Linked DNA regions of Homo sapiens: region 2 is linked to region 1. The links come from fine-mapping of genetic effects on gene expression. Tissue or cell type: blood mononuclear cells. Region 1 holds a variant in brackets; the other region holds the start of a gene. All regions are shown on one strand. Distances are from middle to middle.

The links. PIP is the estimated chance that this variant, and not a neighbour inherited with it, causes the effect. A credible set is the group of variants that fine-mapping cannot tell apart.
Region 2: it holds the start of SUCO, and the variant in region 1 is the best candidate, but not a certain one, in a credible set for the expression of SUCO in blood mononuclear cells (TOPMed, PIP 0.76).

The regions. Positions count from the first base shown.
Region 1 is chr1:172,551,890-172,556,286 of GRCh38, reverse strand. SUCO (SUN domain containing ossification factor) reads right to left here. Exons shown (of 24, transcript NM_014283.5): 3 at 2,917-3,027; 4 at 264-418. Among named protein-coding and RNA genes, the nearest start is that of SUCO, 21 kb to the right of the region's middle. The variant T/C (reference allele first, on the strand shown) is at 2,536.
Region 2 is chr1:172,530,888-172,535,284 of GRCh38, reverse strand. SUCO (SUN domain containing ossification factor) reads right to left here and starts at 2,135. Exons shown (of 24, transcript NM_014283.5): 1 at 1,788-2,135. The coding sequence starts at 1,849. RefSeq lists enhancers at 1,747-1,906, 2,517-2,766, 2,827-2,936 and a silencer at 2,027-2,196.

The sequences.
Region 1 (4,397 bases):
CTCAGACTATATAGAGATTTCATATCTGGGATCTATCAGCTTCATTGAGTTAGTTAGCTAAATAAACTTGTTATAAAATCATTACATTCAAAACACACAAACGCATGCACACATACGCACACAAAACACAAGCACTGTAATTTAGGTCTGCTATATAGCCTAAACTTCAAACTTGAGTATCAAGCTGCTTTATCTTTTAAGGAAATTTTTCTATCACTAACTAAGGAGATTCTTTTTTGTGTTTGTTTTTTGTAACAACTTACTCAAGCTTTGAGATTGGAGTGATTTCTGAGGTAGATGAGCTGGAAATATTTTCAACAGTTTCACTGTCCACAACTGCATTGGAAGACTCTTCATGCAAATCAACTGTAGGGAGTGTCTCCACCACCGGTGGACTTAACTTTTTTGACTCTGTATTCTGTTTAAAAAAACAAGTCAGCTAAATTAAATGTTGAGATTAATATAACATCTCTTTAGCAGAACGGGCATTTATGGAAAGCATTTCTGAAAAATGACAATATAAACAATGTTCACTAAAAAAAGTACTTTTATAAAAATCCTTTCTTCCAATATTACCGCCCTAAGGAATGCATTTCATATGAAAATACAGGCCCTAAGCATTTTTCATGGCATTTCATAAACTAGGAAAGCACTTTCTCCCTACCTATTTCCTACTTTGCATCAGGACCTACAGAGATTTCCCTCTTCTCTAATTGATGAATGATAGTAGCAACAAAGAAACCCTATGGACATGTACAAAACAGTACAATACATAGTTCTTGACCCTGAGCAGTTTAGGAAATAATGTGTATCAATAAGCAACGATATAAGATATGTTCAAGTAACACCATGAAGCAATAAATGATTCTTACTGCTCCTTCAGTCTTGAATGACCTGGGCCTTTCAGTCCTCCAAAACACAATGTGAAATCTACCTAACACCTGTTCATATTTGAAAACCTCTATCAGCACCTCCTCCTCCAAGATCAACCCTAAACAGAATTAACTACTCCCTTTCCCCTATGCCTCCAGTGTTCTCTGTACACTTTTATCACTGCATCTATAACAACTCAATTGCCATTATTCATGTCTCCCTCTCTTCTTCAACTATACCATAAATGTCCTCAGTAAGAACTATGTTCTCTTGATCCTCATATTCCCAGTGTCTAGCACAGTATCTAGCGCACAGTAGGTGTTTAAATGCTCAATAAATGAATATCAAGTGAGAGGTACTCATGTTCAGCTCAAGGAAAAAGAAACTAAGGACTATGATGAATTAGAAGAGCTAGGCATTAAAGAAAAGGAGGGCCAGTACAAGAGCACAAACAAACATCGAGGCACGCAGTCCGGAGAATATAAAGTATGATCATTTGGGGAATTATTTACACCGAGAAATTCACAAAAAAATATAAATAGTCATCTGCATTTTTATGATGGAGGCCTTGAGAAAATGACTACTGCCTTATTATCAAATACTATATTACCATATGAACATGTATTCAAAATTTAAAAATTAATGAGATACTTTACATGCTTTTTTTTTTTTTTTTGAGACAGAGTCTCACTCTGTTGCCCCAGGCTGGAGTGCAGTGGCATGATCTCGGCTCACTGCAACCTCCGCCTCCTGGGTTCAAGCAATTCTCCTGCCTCAGCCTCCTGAGTAGCTGAGACTATAGGCGTGCACCACCACACCTGGCTAATTTTTGTATTTTTGGTAGAGACAGGGTTTCACCATGTTGGCCAGGCTGGTCTCGAACTCCTGACCTCAGGTGATCCACTGTGCCCGGCCTACATGCTATTTTTTAATTAAGTCTTCAAAATCCAATGTGTATTTTACACTTACAGTAAATTTCAATTTGGACTAGCCGCATTTCAAGTGCTTAATGGCCACATGTGGCTAGTGGCTACTGTAATGAACAACATAGGTATACAAGACATGGTAAGCACTCGGAAGTATTTGAGCACAACTACATCATAATAAAAGTTTTATGAATAACGGTAGGAGTGTTCAGGATAGTCATACAATTGTAAGGGCTACAAGTATCATTTTTCTCTTACTCCTATGCATAAACCCTTGACAAATGTCTTCCAGAATCCAATAAAATGAAACTAATTCTATTGCTTTAGATAACTCAGTAAGTTATAAAATAGCCCTGGCTCTTGCAAAAAGTACAAGGTTAAAAAATAAAAAATGAAAAAAAAATTAGCCAAGGCTGTATTTTTTTAAAAAGAAAGAATTCTCCCTCATTCTGAGTTGAAATGTGTGTTCTTTTTTTAATATTCGAGATTTTAGTTTTTCCTTAGTCCTTCTGCCTACAGATAAAATATCCCCAGTACCTTCAGCCATTACTGATATTACATGGTTTCCAGATACCTCAGCATTCTGATCAGTTTATGGTGTATATATTCTAGTTTTTAGTATTTTTCATAAAGTCTGGTGCACAAAATAAACAATATTCAGAATGTAATATGAGAGAAAAAGGGAAAAAACATATTTTGATCTATTATCTATTCATACCCACAATAAGTGGAAATC[T/C]TGGTTATCAAAATACTCTGTGTTCTACATAAAAATACTCCCTTTTGTTCCAAGTGATTCAGGTTAGAAAAAAATTTCTTAACAACTGAAAATCTGAAGAGACAAGATACATCATAATGAACCAAAATAGAACCGAGGAAGAAATGAGGATTTATACTCAAACTTTTACTACCAAGAGACTAGTCACATTTATTATTATCTGTAATTTTACATGTTCTCAAAAGTAGTACTATTAGCAGGTAAGTAATCTTAAGTCCAGTTACAGAGTACCTCAAAGTGAAAAAACTAACAATACACACACAATATGGTGACCAAAGGTTTTCAATCTTGTAAAGTAGTTTGAAATGACATATTATTGAAAATCAAAGCGACATAGCTTACTTGTACATCCACAATAGAATCATCTTTTAATTTATGTTCTTTTGGAGAAATAGGTAAATTTGAACCTGATTTTCCCAATGATTCGGCATTGATAGGTCCCTCTCTTTCATCCTATATAACAACAACAACAAAAATCACCTGATAAAACTGTTTTACAAAACAGTTATAAAGCAATACGAAGATGGTTTTTTTCCATACTTTAAAACCAAAAAACTGCCTTGTTTATTTGACTCTAATTAATTTCATTTGTATACAAGATTATTGTCTATTTCCTTGAATCCCCTCATTGCTACAACATTTAAAATGTGCAATACACCAGTTCAAGAACTTCATTTGATTTCTTAATAAGCATTTTAGTCTTACCATCCAGCACCGTTGTAAGCACCTAGTAAAACTCCAATGAATACCTGACAAATGAAGATACATAAAGCTCTTTCTTTCATCTCTTTTTTGACATACATTCAAGTTAGAATTTCTAATACCTTTATGCCTTCTAGAGTGTAATTTTCATAAAAGTTCATATTCAATCTTTGTTTACCTGAGCCTATCTAGCTCATACTAGGTATCTAAATGTTTACTGAAAGAACATGCTTTCCCCCTTAATGCTTTGCTTAAATTCACTTTTATGACATTTGTTTGCAAAATGCTTCATCAAAAGGGGGATTAAATCAAAATCTTATATACTGTGTGGGTGAAAATATAAAATTATAGTTTTTTTTGAGATATGCGGCAAGTCTTCAAAATTTTAAATGCTCCATCCCAGAAATATATCCAACATAACTTAAATTTAAATAATCCACTCTAAATATGCCCAAAAAACCCTCAAGTATGTAATTGTAAGTATGTGTTGATACACACACCCACATGTGTGCACACATGGCAGGGAACAAAATGCAAAAGTTTGTCAATAAAGAACAACTGATAAATAATGTCTATATAACAAGATTAAAATGCAGCCATTCAGAATATATCAACATGAAAAGATGATATATGAGCTATCACTGGAGGGGAAGGGGGATGGCAATTTGTAATATATTTATATGATATTTTCATGGAAATAAAAATATTAATTTGTGGGCAAATATAAAGGTGTTATCTATACCCACAGAACAAGGTCCAAACGTTTTCACAAGAAATAGTAGACTGTTGTTCCTTTGGGGAAAGGAATGAGACATAAATAATAAATATTTTATACCAATATAAATTACTTCAGTAATTTTAAATAAATACACTGAAGTTAAAGGCAAAAGCCAAATCAAGTCAATACTCTCCATTTATCATTTAGAATGGTAAAATAATACATGTTTTAAGACCATGAGGTTTTTTGGAGTCTTTATATTTACTGCACCTAATTACATAAAACAAACTACAAAGCCACTGACTGTAGATTCTCCCTGGAATACTCACTTCTAATAGTTCTCATTTGCAAAATTGGGGTTTCTTTAAAAACTCTATTATAGATCATTAAAAACAAATCACTC
Region 2 (4,397 bases), 21 kb after region 1:
GCTAAAGTTTCTTAAAATGTTCACACTCTTAAACTCTCCACATCCATTTTCCTCACTAGGAGTTAAAAAACTTGACAGAAGTTTATTACTACTACTTTCAATACCAGGCCAACCGATTTGTTCCCTAACAGGGAAATTCATTAGCTCTTCACTAGAGCTAATGATTGAAGGTGAGAAAACATACTGAGGGTTAGCTTAATCAAAAGATAGCCAGAAATTCCCAAAAGAAATAGAAGCAGAGTTAACTTAAATTTACAAATGATTGTAAGAATCACATTCTATTGCTTGATTTCGTTTACACCATCCAATTAAAAAATTAAAAAAAGCCAGAGATACTGGTGTGTTTTTAAACTTGAATGAAAGTGTTCACCTTTTCCTTATTAGCCATTTCAGAAACTTTTGATGATGAATAACATGGTTTAAAGATGGGCAAGACCAAGAAGAAAGAGGAAAGAAAATACACAGTCTACAAATATAACTAGGCAGCCCCAGAAAGAGATGGAAATGAATACAAGCTTCAGTATCTACAAATTTAAATTTAAAATGAGGTGAGTGGATTTATCTCTTACAGGCACTTCTCCGTACCCAACACAGTAAGTAGAAAGGGGAGGATTTTATTAAAAACAGGAGACGGGTATTAAAAGGATTCAGAATGAAAGGTAATAAGTCAATTGTTTTTGTTCTCAAAAACTTCTATCATTCTTCCAATAAAAATCCCTCAGCCAGGCGAGTGTTTTCTCTTCCCCTTGTTTATGTATTATTTTATGTGAGCAACAACTCTACAATTTCAGTGCTTCTGGAATCCATAAGGCATCCATAAAAATGAAAATAGTGTTGGTGCTTTGCAGAAATAAGCAAAACAGGAAACTTAATTTCTATTTTAATATAACAAACAGCAAATCGCCTAGACTGAAGAAGCATCTTTTCAGTCATCAATTGTCACACATCTTTGAAGAAATTCCCTGGGAGGAAAGAATGGCTTTTCCAAGTACGGTGACAGCAGTCCCTCGACTTACAAGCTTTCTCTGCTCCTCAAAAAACTCCAGAAGTGCCTGGGATTAACAGAAACTCCGTAAAACTTAAGGAGTGCTTTAGGGACAAAGCACTCTTCCCGCCTTGAAAATACAGCATTTACCTTCCCGTCACTAAGGGGCATTACCAAAAACTACTACACACACTACATCTAAGACACCCTCTCCACCAAACCAATTGAAAAAGTGCTTCATAACACACATACACACACGCCCCCCAAGTTTCCAAAAACAGCGGCCCGAGTGTACTTGGGATCAAACGCTGTGCGAGAAATGTCCAGGAGAACTACTGCTTATACATTACTCTTACCTTCATGACCACTCACGTTTTAAAATCGCACGTCCGGAACGCATCACATCCGACGTGCTTTATCCCCTTACCACACTAAGAACGCAAAGACTGGCGGCAAATCGGAGCAACTTACTTACCATCAATCTGAACACCCACCCCAAACCCTGCACCGTCTCCAAGGGGTAGAGGAACTGAGTACAAAGGCACTTGGTGGTTCCCTCTACCTTGGCACCTCTCTCTCTCCCACTGAGTCTCTGTAAATTCCAAAATACACCATGAAAATCTCCGCACAGAGCACTACCAGACCAGTCAGATGGAGAGTCGAGAAGTAATCGGTTTGTCCCTTCCACGGGGGCCTTGGAAACCCGGACCCTAAAAGCCAAAATGACCAGGGGGTGTGACCTGGGCTGCTCCCTCCCATTTACTCCCCTCACGGGAACTCCCTTGTCGTCGCGGCTACTCACCAGACCAGAGAGCACAGAAAGAGGCAGGAGACCAGGGCCAAGGCCCGCCGGTGCTTCTTCATCTTCTCCTCCTTCTTCCCCCTGCCAGAAGGCGGCACATCCTCCCGGCAGCCGCCACTGCCGAGGCCAAGATGGAGGAGCCGGAGCAGGAGCGCGAGAATGTGACCGATAGTCCTAAGGGCTATGGCGCTGGCTGAGCGGCTCCTCAGTGGCTCGCGTCCTGGCAGCCCTCTCTGAGGGCCCCACAGAGGCGCGGACAGGGGCGCTTCACAGGACTCCGGGGACCGCCGCCGCTGCAGCCACCGGCTCGTCCACGCCCGCCTCCTGCAGCCGCCACTGCCGCCCCATATCCTCCCCGCCCGCCGGGGGCCTTGCTCCGTGAGGCCAGCGACCAACGGCCGCCGCGTACTCGCCTCTCAACAGCCAATCGCCGGCGGGGCCGCGACACCTCACACACCGCTGAGCTGGAAAGGGACGCGTCACCCAAGTCCCGCGGCGCCCGCACCCCCACCAGCCTCTGCGCAGGCCACGCCCCCTTCGACGTCGCAGGCGGAGAAGCCGGAGGCAGGAGACCACAAAGCGCAGGAGCAGATGCTCTCGCCGCTCCGCCCGCCCCAGGTCCCGCCCACTTGCTGGCTTGCGTTCAGAAAGCCGGGAGGAGCCCAGTGATCCTCAGCATTTCCCCTTACAGTGGACCGCCCTTCGTCCCTCGCGCGCTGAGTCCGCGCAAGGGCCTTTGGGAGTTGTAGTTTGCCTTCCAGAATTCGTTTTTCTCTTTCCCAGTCCCTCCTAGAATCCATGGTTTTGTTAGAGAAGTCTATAGTTTCGCTGCTCACCACGAGACTGATCAGCTTTGGAACTGTTGCACTGTTTTCCTCTTTTGAGCACAGTTCGTGGAATGGCCTAGAATGACGTGTGTGTTGTGAGGGAAGCTGCACCAAGCCCTTTCCCTGTGGCAATGGACTGCCCCATTGAGCTAGATGTTGATTGGTAGATAGAAAGGGGCGTGCCAAGAATCCTCTCATCTGATTGGTTGCAGCGGAAAACCTTTCGCTTTTTCTTCTCTTCAGCAAGAATTTCGCCGCTTGCCGGGTTCCTCACTTTAAGTGTGCTTCGTTGCTTTTCGTTCTGTTGGTTTCGAACTTTGGGTTCTCTGCGATGGAGTCGGAAGGGAGGAGTTGTCCCCATTAGAGGAGCACCCACAGACGCTCCAAGTCCTGGGGTTCACCTAAAGTGGGGAAGGCAGTCGCTTACACTCACCTAAGAAGAGCAAAAAGTGACCACTTCTCAATACTAAGTAACGGGGCAGCATGCCCATTCCAAGTGTTTACGCCGCTGAGGGGACGGAGGCTGCAATGGTCTGTGCCTTGGAACATGGCATAATGTTTAGTGTGAAAAATGTTTAAAGGACGGGTTACTTATTGTTCATGTGGCCGTAGGGAAAAAACCCTCAGTAAAATGCCCACCTAACGCCTAATTTTGAGCCGCGGAATTTCCTTATGAACCTTCTAAGTTGAATTGGATGTTAATTATAGTCCCAAAGAACTGAATGATTTGATCCGCTCTGTGATTCTTGGATATAAGTCAATTTGATGTTAGAGAAATTATACAAAGGGTGATAATTTTTGTTTTAAAGGAGTTCACCCTGAACTGCCTTTTCTGGCAGTAATTAGGTACAGTTCCACTTATCTGCTGATGCCACTCTTAGTATATGACAATAAAATCCTTTCATCTGTCACCTATTGCGGGAAGCAAGTATTTATCTCACCCAAAAACAGTATCAAATGATTAATATGCAAGTTTAAAAGAAAGTAGGGGCAATGAAAGGGTAGGGATAAATTGACATTCTTTACCATGTTGGACACTCTTTTCCTCTTACTCCAGGAACTTTTATTCAGGATAGGAAACAGCTGAGGTATCCCTCAGCTGATCCTCAGTGCATCACAGCCAAAGAAGTTATATTAGAATACGTGCTTATCTCAAATCTAGGAAGTTATCAAGTTACATCTCCTAACCCTCTCATCCCAAACTCACAAACCCATCCACTTATTTTCCACCAAGTCCCTGCAATGATTTTTTGAAACATGCAAGTACAAATAATTTTACTTTTTTCTTTCTCTTTCATTCCTTCCTTGACTGCCTGCCTGCCTTCCTCCCTTCCTTCCTTCCTTCTCCTGCAGTTGGAGCTTTATTAATACCCCCGTGGTAGGCTTTCCATTCACCTAATTATCATCCAATTATTAGCTTTTACTATTTCAATCTATAAATGTTCTTTTCTCTTTTTGCAGCTTCATTTCCATGGTTTCATGTTAAGGTTTAATCCTTCACTACTCCGAGCTTTTTCCATTTTTCTCTTGAGCAATTTTAATTTTCAACTATACTGTTGACTCCTAAACCTATATCCCATCCTCTTTTCAAGTAGTTGCTGGACATATTATTCTATCACTTCCAATTTTACCTGCACAAAATTGAACTCATTTTCCCCATAAATTAGCTTCTTCACGTGACTTTCTATATTTGTGTTGATTCTTTCCTATTCTAAGACTTCAGATGAAATAAATAGAAGTTCCATAGAGCTGACCTTTAAAGAACTGGTAGACATTTTTCCAC